Linked DNA regions of Homo sapiens: region 2 is linked to region 1. Evidence: fine-mapped expression QTL. A gene starts in region 1. The other region holds a variant in brackets. All regions are shown on one strand. Distances are between the middles of the regions. Region 1 holds the start of FDX1 (ferredoxin 1). Region 2 overlaps LINC02732 (long intergenic non-protein coding RNA 2732).

The links.
Region 2: its variant is fine-mapped to the expression of FDX1 in monocytes after LPS (Quach 2016, PIP 0.91).

What each region holds. Positions count from the first base shown.
Region 1 is chr11:110,425,225-110,433,564 of GRCh38, reverse strand. It overlaps FDX1 (ferredoxin 1), which reads right to left and starts at 3,617. Exons shown (of 4, transcript NM_004109.5): 1 at 3,260-3,617. The coding sequence starts at 3,444. RefSeq lists an enhancer at 2,804-3,083 and a silencer at 3,154-3,803.
Region 2 is chr11:110,367,623-110,375,962 of GRCh38, reverse strand. All of the region lies in intron 2 of LINC02732 (long intergenic non-protein coding RNA 2732), which reads right to left. LOC107984385 (a long non-coding RNA gene) reads left to right here. Exons shown (of 2, transcript XR_007062885.1): 2 at 3,794-4,179. Among named protein-coding and RNA genes, the nearest start is that of LINC02732, 17 kb to the right of the region's middle. The variant G/T (reference allele first, on the strand shown) is at 4,688.

The DNA of each region.
Region 1 (8,340 bases):
TTGGAGGTTATCAAAACAGCATAAACTAATCAGGGACAGAGAATGCAGTGACTTAACAGACATCCAGGAGGTAGACCAAAAGGTTTTAGTGACCATCTACATAAGATAAACTGAAAAGCGGAAAGAAAAACATTGGGATTTCCAGCTCACACAATTAGGTGGTACCATTTAACCTAGGTTTAAGACAGGAACCAAAGGAACTTTGGGGAAGACAGAAATAAGTTGAAGCTTAGACCTGCTGAATTTAATAATGAAAAAGCCAGATGAGAATGTCCAAACACCAGATGGCAATATGGGTATGGGTCTGAGCCCAGCAGAGAAGTCTAGAGATTTGACATCAACGAATGCCTGGTAGCTAAAGCTACAGGAAGCACATTAGAAAGAATTCCATCATTTATACACACTACTGAAAGCCAGAGGTTTCAGCGTTGCTGTTCTTCTGAAGCACTCTAGAGCTAAGCTTACAGCAAAGGAATTCGAAATCTCTTACATCAGCCTCCTCTTCTATAAAATTGGACAACATTAATCTTATAGTTCTGACAATGTATGCAAAATACGTAACACATAGTAGAATTCAACACACACTGATTAATAACTGTTATTTAAAGACCAAGCCCTTTTGCTAAGAAGCCCAACCTGTTGGTCTGTATTAAAGGTAAACAGCCCTACAAAAAACTGCCAAGTAAGAGTATTAACAGGTTTACCAAAGAAGAGGAGAGGAGGCGGAAACGAAAGAAAAATGTAATTCTTAAGTTGAAAGAGTATGGAACCTAAGAGTCAGAAGATGTAGACCCTATGCTGGGAGTGGTCACTCACGCCTGTAATCCCAATACTTTGGGAGGCTGAAGCAGGCAGATTACTTGAGGCCAGGGGTTCCAGACCAGGCTGGTCAACATAGTGAAATCTCATCTCTACTAAAACTACAAAACTTAGCCGAGTGTGGTGGCACGCGCCTGTAATCCCAGATATTCGGGTGGCTGAGGCACGAGAATCGCTTGAACCTGGGAGGTGTAGGCTGCAGTGAGCCATGATGGCACCACTGCACTCAGGTGAAGAGTACACCAACACCTCCAAAATCACCACTAAAGAACTAACCCATTAACCAAACACCACCTGTGCCCCCAAAACTACTGAAATTTTAAAAATAAATAGAAATTTAAAATTTTTTTAAAATCCGCAAAAACTTCTTGAGTTCTAGTCCTAGTTTTGCCAGCTACTTAATATGAAATTTTTATTCCCATTTATCTACCCTCCCTACCTCATAGAATTGTCTTAAGAGTCATACGAAACAATACACGTGAAAGATCTTTGCTACCTGAATCACTGCAAACCCCCTTGTGTCACGGTATTTTAGAGTAAAAGGAGTTTTTCTGACTCTCAATTACTGATAGCTTATCGAGTTGTTAAACTTCAAAGACAGAACTACAGTTTCTAGAACTGCTCTGTCTGTCTATAAGAACTTTGTGCCATAACAAAGATGTTCTACACATACTTGCAATGTCCAATACAGTAGCCACTAGCCACATGTGGCTACTGAGAACTCGAAATGTGGCTAGTGTAACTACGAGATTGAATCTTTAATTTTATTTACCTTTAATTATGTTAAACTTCAATAGCCACATGTGATTAGTAGTTACGGTAGTTACAGCACAAGTCTCATTAACACAGTAAGAACTGGAAAATCCAGTTGTAGCTCCAAAGTCTGTAAGAGGAATGATAAGACCATGAATAGAAATTGTGCCAATAAAGAGGGCAGCAGGATTATGAGGAAATAGACGTGCTCCCCTTTAAAACAACCTGACATATCCAAATCCAAAAAACAAATCTGAGAAAGATAACTCCCAATTACTACAAAAACATTCATGTTCCCTTATACCAGTTACACAAGCATGTTCAATATCTGTCCCAATTGATTCAGTTGTCCAAAACTCATCCATTGTATAACAGAAAGCAAGGTACCCACACTGGTCAAAGACAGGGGGGGAAGTGCAGAGGAAACAGGAACAAATAAATCTGGCTTGCCTTCTCCCTGATTTCCCCCAAAGTTCACACAACAAAAATGTATGGAGCACCCACTAGATAACGGGATTAGTGGGGAAAAGATGACTGAAAGTCTTAGACCCTGCTCTCAGAGACCTCAAAAAGAAACTAGACAAAGCAGCGTACAAATCCAACACACTCTCCCTCTAGTTCTCGATTCCTGCTACCCTACATCATGCGGTCAAAGAGCTGTCGAGAGATCTGCATTATATAAATCGCCACCATGTTGGTAAAAATTATGTGTAAATTGTATCTCTAGTATATCTAAGGAGTGTCTTTGAAAAACAAATATGCCCAAGAACCTAAAACTTCAACACATTTGGGATAAATTGTCACATTTCTTTCAATATTTAATACAAAACTCTCTTAACATTGTGAACCTAAGAAGCTGCTGCTGCTGCTGCTGCTGCTGCTGCTGCTGCTACCAAGTGGCATCTACTGAGCCCTCATTACGTGCTAGGCACAAGACTACCTGTATCGCTGTATTAACTCATTGATTCTTCAATTAACCATAGGAGGTCTACACTGTTATTATATCCAACTTGCAAATGGAGAAACTGGGTTCCTAAGGACTGACCAAGTTAGGCACGTCAGACAATCAGTGCCAAAGCCAAGTTTCAAGTCCCGGCAGATTACTTCAACGCAGGGGCTTTCAACACTTGAGCAACTAGCAAAGGGCCTACAGGGCAGCAGAGGGTATGGGCTGGGTGTATTCTACCTGGACACCCCCTGACAAAGACCTGGGACCTGGGTGTCCTCTCAAAGCAGGGCAAGGCCCTGAAAAAAACAGCTGGCAGGTGTGTCAGGCCAGGACAGCAGGAGGGAAGCCTGTCGCGAAGGTCACTGCCAGTTTCGGGCAGAGCAAAGGTCAGATCCCAGACAAATCACACGGAGAACAAGCAGCAGCAAAGTCCCGGCTTTCCTCAGGGCACGGGAAGCGCTGGGAAAGGGAGCTGGGCGTCCAGGGTCCCCGATTCCCGCCGGGAGTGGGTGATGCGGAAAGGAACTCTGCGGTGCGACGGAAGGGAGGCAGCGACGCCACCGAGCAGCGAGACGGAGCCGCGAGAGCACCCCAGAAGAGGGGGGCGAGAGGCAGGCCTCCGGGGTGTGGGCCCGGCGCGCAGAAGGCACTGGAACCAGAGACTCGGCCCAGAGAGCCAGGCGCCACCCACCGGGGACCCCGGCCCGCGCCGGCGATCGCGCCCGCACGGCGCCCTACCTGCTCCGGGCCCGCGCCGACACGCTCAGCGACCGGCTCGCCTCCGCGCTCCCGCCCGGCCCCCGGTTCCTCAGCAGGCCGCTGGATCCAGCGCGGGACCCAGCGTGGTGCAGCCACCGGCCGGCCGGGCCGCCGAGGACAGCAGAAGCGGCGCGCAGCAGCCGGGCGCCCCCAGCGGCAGCCATCGCCCGCGGTCGGGAACTGCCGGAAGCGACGCAGGCCGCGCTTTGAGGCCGCGAGAGACTCCAAAGAGGCGGGGGCGGCAGCTGCGGCGCAGACGCCCGAGGGCCGCGGCGAGGGGCGCGGGGCTGGAGTGGCGGAGAGACCCTGCTGGAAGCACCGCGCCGAGGTTCCGCGTGCCTTCCGGGTGACCTATAAAGACATTGGCAAGCAGAGCGCGGCCCCGCCCCGCCTCTCACGCCCACGCCGCCCGGTCCCATGGGGCGGGGCCAGCGCAGGGGGCCTTTACCAACCCTCCAGGTTCCGTTGTAAGCTGGATGCTTTTTTAGCGGCTGAAGTTGCCGTGCAGAAACAAAATATTTTGAAAGATAGCTGGACGTCTAGCGGAAATCGGTTAGCTAGACCACTGTGTTCTGTTCCGCATACCCCCATCCCCTAGCCGTTAAAAAAAAAACTGGGAAATTGTGTCATCTTGGAGTCAAGTTAGAGCAAAGTGAATTCTGCCCACTGTAAAACAAAAACAGTGGGAAATTTTGGAAAATCTCAGAATGCTATTATACAAAGAAATAATTATGACTATAAAATTGTAAATGAAATTAATGAATAGGCTTGGGGCTCCTGCAGAGGACAGGTAGCCATCCTAGACCTTGACTGGCAAGTAAATGCTGGCTGAGTACATGAAACCCACGAGACTGAACCGGAAACTTTGTGATGAGCTGAGATCTCTAAAAGACTTTCACAAAAAACAGAAAAGATGAACTTTAAAATACACCTTATCATGGTTCATATGTTGTGGGAAATGCATGGGCTTTAAGGTCAGAAATAGCAATGTTCAGATCCAAGATCTACTGCTTTAGAGATCTGAGACCTTGGAAAAATTATTCTCATGGAGGATCAGAGTTTCCATAACTCTCAAACACAGATAAGATGTTCCAGCCTTCAGGGCCATTCTGATGTTAATCTAATACGCAATGCACACCGTGCGTCACAAACCAGGAAGGCTACCGCTTCCTGGGCCTTCCTCCATCAGGGTACTCATAAAGAGGCTAAAGGCCAAAGTCAAGGGGATATTGCAGATATGCTAAACACAATCAGATACTTTTTTTTTCTTTTTTTGACATGGGGTCTCTCTATTCTGCCCAGGCTGTAGTGCAGTGGCGAAATCTCGGCTCACTGCAACCTCCGCCTCCCAGGTTCAAGTGATTCTCCTGCCTCAGCCTCCCGAGTAGCTAGGACTACAGGCGTGTGCCACCACACGCCACTAATTTTTGAAGATTCAGAACAAGAAAGTGTAAGCATGAGTAAAGTATCTGCGGACAATGTATGGTGCTTTCTGGAACCCAATGGCAGAGAGAAGGCAGTGGCTCCTAATTGCCTCAAATCGTTGGATGAAGAGAAAGTCTTTCAAGCTGCGAAGGGCACAGCAAACCCTGACAAGTAATCTTGAAGAGGAGGTTGTAAAAGAACAGCTAACTTTTGTTTTTAGTAAGACCAAACTTCCAAGGTCGGATGAATTAGTTGTAGGAAGAGAATTGAAAAGAAAAAAAATCGTAGATGTTCTGTCTTCTCTCAGCCCTCCTGTAGCAAATACAGTTTCAACTCCCTTAAGGCACTTGATAGCTTTCTGCTTTGTAGGGTAGTTATTCGTACACATAGAGTAGTTATTTATATAGTTCATCTTAGTGACTCCGACAGCACCAGCTACAGGGTCTTGAACATATCAAGGGTCTAATAAATATTGGTGAATAAATTGATGTTATGAAATTTCCATTAATAATCATCAGAATTCATTAAGCATGTATATGAAGATTAAAGATAGAAAAAATGTTCTCCAGGTTTTCTAAGGTGGATGAGAAGTAATGCCAAAAATTGCAAATATCAGTAGTCAGCAGAATTCCAGAATGGATTTGTAAACATGATCATGAATACAGATAAAGCAACATGGAATTACTGAGGACGTGCTTTTGCTTATCTGTTTGCTTATGTATTTCTTTGTCTATAAAACTCCCACCCCTCCATCCCTTTTTTTTTCTTTTTTTCCTTAGAGATGGGGTTTTGCCATGTTGCCCAGGCTAGTCTGGAACTCCTGAGCTCAAGCAATCTGCCCACCTCAGCCTTCCAAAGTGCCGGGACTACAGGCATGAGCCACCATGCCCAGCCCATCTTTTACTCCTTTCAAAATCCATTCATTGTTTGAAGACTTTTGTCTTATTCTGTTTATGATGCTATAACAGAATAACACACAGACTGGGTAATGTGTAAAGAACAGGAATTTATTTTCTCACAGTTCTGGATACTGGGTCGCCCAGGTGCCAACTGGTTTAATGTCTGATAGAGAGGCCCAGTCTCTGCTTCCAAGATGGTGTCCTGTTGCTGTGTCCTCACATGCTGCAAGAAGGGCAAACATGCCAATTTCCTCCAACCCTTTTATAAAGGTGTCAATCGAGAAAAATGATGAGACAATTCTCAATCATTTTAGGAGATTGATTTGCCAAAGTTAAGGATGCACGCCCAGGAGACAGTTCTATGCCTTTCTCTGAAGATGATTTTGAAGGCTCCAAATTTAAAGGGGAAAAGGTGGGATATTGAGAAGTACATAATTTTCATGTATGGCGGGATAAGGAAAAATAGTCATTCATACCCTTGTCTAGCTCAGTGCATCTGCTTTTTTTTATATATAAGATGACAGAGACAAATGGAGCAGAGGAAAAATGCAGGAAATCTACATTTTTACGTAAGATAGCATAGGCAAAATGGGGCAGGGGAACAATGAGATATTCATTTGTGTTTGGTGGGCAGCAGGGTGACTGCATCTGTAAAGATAATCTATCCATTTACATTGCCATGGTGAAATTTTAACAGAAATACCTTAAAAGATCTTGCAGCTCACTAGGAATTTCTTTGTGGGCAAAATATGGAGGAGACATGTAGCTTTTCATCTTGTAGCCATCTTATTTACAAACCAAAAGGGGGACGCAGATTTGCATGACCCAGTTCCTAGCTTAACTTTTCCCTTTGGCTTAATGAGTTTGGGGTCTCAAGATTTAATTTCCTTTCACATTTTCCCTTCTTTTTCTTTAAAATCTTTTGGAGAAAGCATTTTAGAAGGAATACAGCTTTCTGGCCTAGGGTTGTTTTTTCTTCCTTTTCTTTTGAGCTGGTTTCTCCTCACTAGGTTGGTTAACTCCTAGAAGTTCAGGTCCCACGTTGCTATGAAGGCTCATTCCTAAGACATTATGTCCCATGAAGATAAAAAAAAATGGGAAAAAAGAAGGAAAAGAAAAAAAAATACACACACACACACATATATATGTATATATATATGGACCTAGGCCAGATGTATAGCAACAAATAGGAAGCAAACCTGGAAGGTGGGTCAGGTTATATTACTGCCTCCTCAATTAGAGCAATTCCCTGGGCAATCATTACCCTAGCCCTTTCAGTTGTGTGTGGACTTATTTGCAAGCACATACCTTAACAACACTGTAAGCAGAAACAGGACAGAACAGAAATTATTATTATTATTATTATTCCTATTATAAGCAACAGCTTCTGCCACCAACTTCCCCAGGATGCAAACCAATCACTCAACCAATTGATTAGTGAGGGTTTTGGATCTGACAGGTTGGTTTTCCGGGGTTTCATATCAGTCATAAGTCAGGTTATGTTCTTCGATTCATGTGGAATATACACACAGCATTCAGCTTTTATGATGGTGCAGGCCCCCCGCTGTGCTGCTGTGAGTATATCTGAGGCCATATGGTTTTGCAACACAGCTTTCCTCAAAAGCATGACCTCATTATTTAGCAACGGGATACTCATCTGGCTATCATTTAGGGCCTTTTTGGTGTAATTCATTAAGGCCTCTATAGGCCATATAATGTCTTCAATACTTAGCTTCAATCTTCAAGTGATCATGCCCCTGGAATACTGAACGTGTCCAGTGAGATCGTAAATGAAAAAGGCTTGCTGGTTTTGGCAGGGTCTGAATTATTCACCCCTGTTCTCAAGCGTAACCTGGGGAACATTTTCCTAATCACCCTGGAGGTGACCACAGCCGTAAGTTAGTACCACACAGCCAATATGTCCCATTTGGAGCTAGCCAATAAATACCTAGTTGCTACAACCAATCGGTGGCATGCCAGTCAATGTCTTGTAATATGATAATGTGGTCACAGCATTCTCCCAGTATCCACCCCATATTTCTCATACTTTCTGGCCATAAATCCTTGGTGTGGTTTCTTTGCTCCCAGCATTTTGGCTGAGTTGGCCAAATGAAGGGGTGAGCCAGAGAAATTCATCCCAAATTTGCATTATTCCATTTTGAAATGGGCTGTTGTTTGGGGCATAATTACCACCTTTTTTTTTTTAGTTGTGGGGGATGCTAAAGTGAGAGCTAATGAGCTGGTCCTTTCCATTGAAAAACTTTTCCCATCTTCCTTGTTCTCTTATGCCAGCACTAAGAATACCAGACCATTTCTGTGATATAATAAATTTTTGGTCCTAACCTTGGAAGGAGGATACCTACCATGGCAGGCCAGAGCCACTGGAAAGAGGCATGAGTCTGTATATCCAGCAGGTGTCCTTTTGTAATCTGTCTGCATACTCCTGAGCCTATTGTAGAAACAGGTTTGTTTCACTGGAGTCAGTGGGTGAAAATGGCAAGAAGGTGTAGGGATATAGGGTCAATAATAGCAAGGTTGTAAAATTCATTTAGCTACTAAAAGGATGTTAAATCAGACAAGGCAAGTGTCCTGTTCTTTGTAAGACAGCAGTTGCCAGTAGCTCTGGGACAATAATTGTCATGGTTATTATACAATAAACATAGGCATTCTTTTGTTTACAGGCCTTGTCCTGTGTCTTGGGGTTAAACAGTCCACACAGCTGTCATCTGCTTCTAT
Region 2 (8,340 bases), 58 kb after region 1:
CTCTTATCTACCTGGTGGAGGGGGAGTAGAGATCATGATACTCCAACCCCTCTCTTCATGAACCTGGAGTAGGGAGAGTAGAAGAGAGAGGGAACAGGGGAATCTCATAAGATTGCTTGGTAGCATAACGACCTCGGCGAATTTAAAGTGGAACTGAGGTCCTTAGTCTTAGTCCATTTGTGCTGCTATAACAAAGTATCTTACACTGGGTAATTTATAAACAACAGAAATGTATTGCTCACAGTTCTGGAGGCTGGGAAGTCCAAGATAAAGTGCCAGCAGGTTCAATGTCTGGTAAGGGCTCATTGCACAGAGATGGTACCTCTTGCTGCATTCTCACATGGTAGAAGGGAGCAAACAGCCTCCTTTTAATCTCCTTTACATTATCCCATTTATGAAGGCAGTCTTCATGACTTAATCACTTCCCCCAAAGTCTCCACCTCCATGCTATGACATTGAGGATTAAGTTTCAGCCTATGATTTTGGAAAGCATACCAACATTCAGACCATAGAACCAGCCAATGAGATTGTGGGCTATTCTTCCACCATACTCAATGGGCAAAGACATGGAGTAGGGCAGAGAGCTGGATTTAACCAGGGTTGGAGTTTGGCCAAGTGAGTTTAAAGTACAATTAAAAGGACAAGGGAGTTTGGGATCTATTCAAGAGGGTGACTATGATGGACCATCCAATTTCAGTTGGATAAGGAAGTTGAGGACAGCAAGTCACAGTCACAGTCTGAGCCAATTCTCAGTGGCCAGGGCTATAGAAGGACACAGGCCATAAGAAGATAAGGAGGAACCTTGCACTGCTGGCCTCTGACAGTGAGTAGAACCCAATCTCTCTCTAAGCCAGTGACCCAATTTCCTCTGTCTTAAACAGCTCATAGTACAGCTGGCTCTTTCTCATTCTTCAGGCTGCTGTGAAATCTTCCCTGACTTCCCCAGCATAGGACACAGATCCTCCCTGCTGTTCTTAATAACACACTTTTTTTTTTATTTCTTTCAGGGCTTCTCACCATCTGGTTATTTTATTGATTTGTTTACATGTTTATTGTCTGTTTTTCCCACCAGAATGCAAGCTCCACAAGGCCAGGAATCTTTCCTGTCCAATTCACCACAGCAGCCTCAACCTGGCAGACAGTTCAGCATACAGTAAATATTCAAGAAATATTCATTTAACAAATTAGTTGATATTCTGGGTTGCTTGAAATGCTAAGCACTATACTAAGATTTTTATACACATTTTCTCATTTACCTCTCATCAGTCAAATATTTACTAGGGAAAAGCTGAAGCTTAATGAAGTTATATAATTTGCCAAAGGTCACAGAGCAAAGCCAAAATTTGAAACCCAGTCTTTCTGATTCTGAAATCCCTCTTCTCACCTTTGCAACTTTCATAAACAAATATTTTGTAAACCAAGCAACCATGCCTTATGCTAAGGTTTATACAAGAAAGCCAAAGAAAAAAGGAGGAAGGAGGAGATGCAAGAAAAGTGGCTGTGGCCCTAATTTTTGTTACGGCTATGGCATCTGTTCATGTGCAGACATTCTATAGAGTTCCAAATTAAATCTGCTTTCTGATTCTGGGTTCAAAGTTGGGTTTGGTTTGTTTGTTTGTTTGTTTTTGAGATGGAGTCTCGCTCTGTTGCCCAGGCTAGAGTGCAGTGGCGCCATCTCAGCTCACTGCAACCTCTCCCTCCTGGGTTCAAGCAATTCTGTTTTGTAATCCCAGCACTTTGGGAGGCCGAGGTGGGTGGATCATTTGAGGTCAGGAGTTCGAGACCAGCCTGGCCCACATGGTGAAACCCACCTCCACTAAAAATACAAAAATTAGCCAGGCGTGGTAACCTGCGCCTGTAGTCCCAGCTACTCAGGAGGCTGAAGCAGGAGAATCGCTTGAACCCAGCAGGTGGAGGTTGCAGTGAGCCAAGGTTGCACCACCGTACTCCAGCCTGGATGACAGAGTGACACTCTGTCTCAAACCAAAAAAAAAAAAAAAAAAAAAAAAAATTAAAGAAGGAAAAGATGCAAGATCTTTGTTTAAGAGCCACTACGTTTCCTCCTTATATCTTCTTCTTCTTTTCTTCTTGCTTTGTCAACTTCCTTTCAACACACTGCCTCCTTTCTCCTGAAGTATTTGTTTGGCATCTCCCAAAGTATAAAAGAGTCAAACTTAAAAAGGATACTAGCGGGTATGAAAGCAACAAAACAGAATATACAAAAATCTTGATCACCCATAAAGATCTAGGATATCAGAGAAATGTGTATACATGTGATCAGGAGATAGTGAGTTCAGGAGTAAAGGAGAACAAAACCAAATGATAATGACTCACATGTAAAAGAAAGGGAAGGTTGTGAAATTGTTTGCTACATTAGTACATGGGACAAAAATGTGATTGAAATTGTGTCATTCTTCTAATAACATGAATGTCACAAGTAAAACTAAAACTAGCAAGAGAATGTGAATAAAAGGCCCAGCTTGAAATCTCAAGCTTTCAGAAATAATGTTTTTCTATTTGCATCTCTTAGTACTGCTACAGAAAATGACTCATACATAGAAGGTCCAGAAAGGAACTAAATTACAGTGCTTTAAAACAAAACAATTACCCTGTCGTACTCTCAGTTGTCTTTAAATGAGCAAAAAGAAAGCTGAGATAGAAACCTCCTTATTCACAGCCTACACAGAAGCTCGTATGAAGGCAAATGGCTATTTTTGCCTCGGGGTGTGCCAGAATCAGGGTGAAAACTTGAACCATTTGCATTCTTTCAGGTTCAGTTTGAGGAGTAGCCAGACCTGTCATCCCTGGGAGGTCGGATCAGGGACCTAGCGTGCTTTGTCCTCTTACCACCCACTGCATGAATTGCAGTGACAGGCTTGAAGGCCACCAAGTGTGTCACTCCTTGTAAGACTGGGAAGGGCTGGAAAGAGTGTAAGGGTATCATTCCTTACCACATAGTCTCCCCACTCTTATTTGTCTATAGGAGTAAAGCTAAGTGCCTATGATACTCCTGCTTGGTGCCTGGAGCTGAGGTGTTCTCCTAAGGTAAAGGGTGATCCTGGAGAAGGGGCTTTCCATTCTCCATGCACAGATGGACCTGTCCATCACTCACACCCTCCAGAATCCACAGTGAGCAAAGGCAATTTCTCCAAAATTATATCTATTTTATTTTACTTTCTTTTTTTTTTTTTTTGCATTTTTGCATGTTACAGGAAAATAAATGTGTTTTAATTTTTTTATCTTAAGACCTAATCACTTTTATTTCATATCCAGGGAGAAAAGACAAAATATTTTAAAATTGGCAACCGGGCATGGTGGCTCATGTCTGTACTCCCAGCACTTTGGGAGGCCGAGATGGGCGGATCACTTGAGGTCAGGAATTCAAGACCAGCCTGGCCAACATGGCAAAACCCCATCTCTACTGAAAATACAAAAAAGAAAAAAAAATTAGCCACCTTGGATGTGGGCATCTGTAATCTCCGCTACTCAGGAGGCTAAGGCAGGAGAATCACTTGAACCCGGGAAGTGGATGTTGCAGTGAGCTGAGATTGTGCCACCGTACCCCAGCCTGGGTGACAGAGCAAGATTCCATCTCAAAAAAATAAAATAAAATAATAAAATTAAAAATTGGCATTTGGGATAACAAGGAAGCTCCATTCTGAAATAGATTCCAATTAGATCAAAGATTGAAATGCTAAAAGGAAATTGCAAGGCACTAGAGGAAAACACGGAAAGAACCCCCATTAAATATTGTAGACTGACCATATGCTTTCATCTTCTCTCCCTGTCGTAGGCTAAATAATGGCTCCCAAAGATGTGTCTACATCCTAATCTCCAGAATCTGTGAATGTTACTTTATGTGGCAAGTACGTGGCAGATGTAATTAAGTCAAGGATCTTTGGATGGTTATCCTGAATTATCTGGGTGGGCCCTAAATACAATCACAAGTGTCCTTATAGGAGAGAGGCTGAAGGAGATTTGGTACCAACAGAAGAGGAGGAGGAAATTGTGATCATGCAGAAACTGGAGTGATGGAGTCACAAGCCAAGGAATGCCAGCAGCCACCAGAAGCCGAAAGAGGCCCTGCCAACACCTTGATTTAGGCCTAATGAAACTGAGTTTAGATTTCTGGACCCCAGAACTGTGAAAGAATAAATTTCTGTTGTGTTAAGCCCCTAATTTTGTGGTAATGTGTCACAGCAGCCCTTGGAACCTAATACACTCCCCAAGCCATCACAATGACGGTTAAGGGAAGTAAAACGATAAAATTCATAAAGATAAAGAGAATAACAGAAAAGGATTTCAATAAGTGTTTGGAAGATGGAAAAGGAAAGAATGAGAAGCAACTTACTTATCAGAGTAGAGAAAATTACCTGAGAGCCTGGAGAAAGGGAAGTGAATAAGACAGAGTCAGTTCTCCCCAGAGAAGCCAGACACAGGGTCATTGAGCACCAAGCAGGGGCAGGAGTGGGGTGCAGGGCTGGCACTGGGGATAGAGTGGAAACATTAACATGGACCTTGGATCCCTGGGCCCTGACTCCTCTGACACTGGTCTTCCTGAACTAGCTGCATCCCTTCTTGTCATGCCCTCCACTCCAGTCCCTGCCCTTGACCCCACCACCACCACCTCAGCTGACACACATCAGTTCAGCTCACACTCCTTCTGTTAGAAAGAACCAGTCACAAG[G/T]TTCTTCCTGAATGCAATGGGGCTGGGAAATGCTGAGCAGTGCCAGGCACAGGCTTCCTCTAAACCACTCTGCACCAAGGAAGAAGGACATTTTTTTGATGGTCTAATACCCGTCTCTGCCACACTCTCTAAGGCAATTAATTTTAAAATTTTAGAATACTGGAAATAAAGAAAAGATACTAAAAACTTCCAGAATGAAAAACCAGGTCACATATTGCCTTATGGATCAGCAATCTGACTGGCATCAGCCTTTTCAATAGCAATACAAAATGCCAGAAGACAACAGGGCAATGCCCTCAAAATTCTGAGAGAAAATATCTTGCTAATAAAACATCTATTACACCTAGCAAGCAGCCATCCCAAAGGCAGAAGGCTGTGAAAGAACAAAAGGGAGCTATCTAGGGAGAAAAACATAACTGTTAATTATTATTATAATAATAATATATTTTTAGAGACAAGGTCTCTGTCAACCCATGCTGAGGTGCAGTGGCACAATCATAGCCCACTGCTATGGGCTGGAACTCATGGGCTCAAGTGATCCCCCCACCTCAGCCTCCCAGGTAACTAGGACTAGAGGCACATACCACCACACCCAACTTATTTTTGCTTTTATTTTTTGTAGAGGGGTCTCCTTATGTTGCCCACGCTGCTCTAGAACTCCTGGCTTCATGCAGTCCTCTTGCCTTGGCCTCCCAATGTGCTGGGATTACAGGCATAAGCCACCATGCCCAACCTTTAATAATTATTTAATGTGTTTGGGAATTTGGAGGAAAAGGATTACCAAAAGTTTGCCAAATCTCCAGTATCCTTTGAACAGAAAAAAATAGTAATTGTATGTAGAAAACTAAGCAATTTGGCCAGTGATGAAGGGGATTAGCAATTACTAATGTCAGAAAAAGCAGAAGGTTATACAAGAAAGAAGATATGATGACAAGATCCTATTTGGTTCAGTGGTGAATAATATTTAATAGTGACAAAAATGTAAACACTGACTTTTGGCTTAACTAAGTTGTTTTTTTTTTTTTTTTTGAGATGGAGTCTCACTCTGTTGCCCAGGCTGGAGTGCAGTGGCACAATCTCGGCTCACTGCAACCTCCGCCTCCTGGGTTCAAGCAATTCTCCTGCCTCAGTCCCCTGGGTGGCTGGGACTACAGGTGCATGCCACCATGCCCAGCTAATTTTTGTATTTTTAGTAGAGACAGGGTTTCACCACGTTAGCCAGGATGGTCTTGATCTCCTGACCTCGTGATCCGCCCACCTCGGCCTCCCAAAGTGCTGGGATTACAGGCATGAGCCACTGCGCCTGGACAAGTAAGCAATTTATATAACTGTATTGGAAAAATGAAGAGAGGGAAATAGGAAGGGTTAGAGTTGGATAAGAAATCAAAGGCTTCAACAATTTCCTTCCTAGGATCATACTCTATACATATTTTTGACACATATGCAAAGATTTATGTACAAAGATTTATGTACAACAATTTATGTACAAAGATTTCCATCATTGAATAAGAAATAGCAAAAACAGAGATGACTTAAATATCTATGAATTGGAGACTCTAAAACAGATTATGTTTGAATGAAATACAGTTTTTGTGGGGTGTTTTTGAGATGGAGTCTCACTCTGTCGCCCAGTGCAGAGATGTGATCTCAGCTCACTGCAACCTCCGCCTCCAGAATTCAAGCAAATCTCCTGCCTCAGCCTCCCGAGTAGCTGGGATTATAGGCACGTGCCACCACACCTGGGTAATATTTGTATTTTTAGTAGAGACAGGGTTTCACCATGTTGGTCAGGCTGGTCTCGAACTCCTGACCTCAATTCATCCACCCGCCTCAGCCTCCGAAAGTGCTGGAATTACAGGTGTGAGCCACCGTACCCAGCCTATTTTAATTTTTTTTTTTTTTTTTTGAGACAAGGCATTGCTCTGTTGCCCAGGCTGGAGTGCAATGGCACAATCTCGGCTCACTGCAACCTCTGCCTCCTGGGTTCAAGCCATTCTCCTGCCTTAGCCTCCCAAGTAGCTGGGACTACAGGCGCAAGCCACCATGCCCAGCTAGTTTTTGTATTTTTAGTAGAGAAGGGGTTTCACCATGTAGGTCAGGGTGGTCTCAAACTCCTGACCTCAAGTGATCCACCTGCCTTGGCCTCCCAAAGTGCTGGGATTACAGACATAAGCCACCGCGCCCAGCCCGCATTTGTTTTAAAGCCATCCCCAATATATGCTGACGTGATCTCTGGATACTGAAAATAAAACAAGACAAAATACACAAACAGAAACAAAGTGGAGACTAATGGGTCCATATACTACCACCTGTGAGTATTTTAATGCATGTATCAATATACACATACACATTCACAAACATTGAGTCTTATGTATATACAGACTATCTGAAAAAATACACAAGAAACTGCCTGTAGCAATCGACTTTGTGGAGGGGAATTATGGTTAAGAGGGCAGAGATAGATAGGGAATTGATGTAGTTTGGATGTTTGCCCTCTCCAAACCTCATGTTGAATATGCTCCCCAGGGCCGGGCACGGTGGCTCACGTTTGTAATCCCAGCACTTTGGGAGGCCGAGGCGGGCGGATCACAAGGTCAGGAGTTTGAGACCAGCCTGACCAACATGGTAAAACTCTGTTTCTACTAAAAATACAAAAATCAGCTAGGCGAACTACGGGTGCCTGTAATCCCAGCTACTAGGGAGACTGAGGCAGGAGAATCACTTGAACCCAGGAAGCTGAGGTTGCAGTGAGCCCAGATCACGCCACTGCACTCAGCCTGGGCAACAGAGTGAGACTCTGTTGAAAGAAAGAAAGAGAGAGAGAGAGAGACAGAGACAGAGAGAGAGAGAGAGAACTCCCCACTGTTGGAGGTGGGACCTGGTGGGAGGTGTTTGGGTCATGGGGGCAGATCCCCCTTGCCATCCTCATGGTAATGAGGAAGTTCTTGCTCCGTTCACGCTCTGTTCATTCACATGAGAGCTGGTTGTTTAAAGGAGATTGGCACCTCCTCTCTCTATCTCTCTCTCCTGCTCTCTCTCTTGCCATGTAACATACCAGCTCCCTCTTTGCCTTCTTTCATGAGTGGAAGCTTCCTGAGGCCTCACGAGAAGCAGATGCCAGCACTATGCTTCATGTACAGCCTGAGAACCATGAACCAAATAAACCTCTGTTCTTTATAAATTACCCAGCCTTAGGTATTCTTGTATAGCAACACAAATGAAGTAATACAGGGACCTACTCTTCACTGTATATAATTTTGTCACTTAAAAATTTTATGCTAGTGAATATATTACTTATATAATAAATACATGAATATTCACTATTAATATTATTCATGAATAATATAGTAATTATTGATTCAAATGAATAATTTTTCAAACGAAGGATAAAAGCAACCTGTTAAAAGACGAAAAATTTTTAAAAACACAAAATTAGCCCCCTTAATAGCTTCATATATCAAACATAATCTTAAAATATCTTTTCAGTATGTTTAACAATTTTCCTTTAGGTGGCAGTAATTACATATTTATTTTTTATAATAGCCACCTGACTAGCCTTTAGAATCAGTTCAACAATAATATTTGGTTGTCTTATTTTTCCTTTTCATAGGAAAAAAAATGTTTAAATATTAGAACCTACATTTATAAAATGC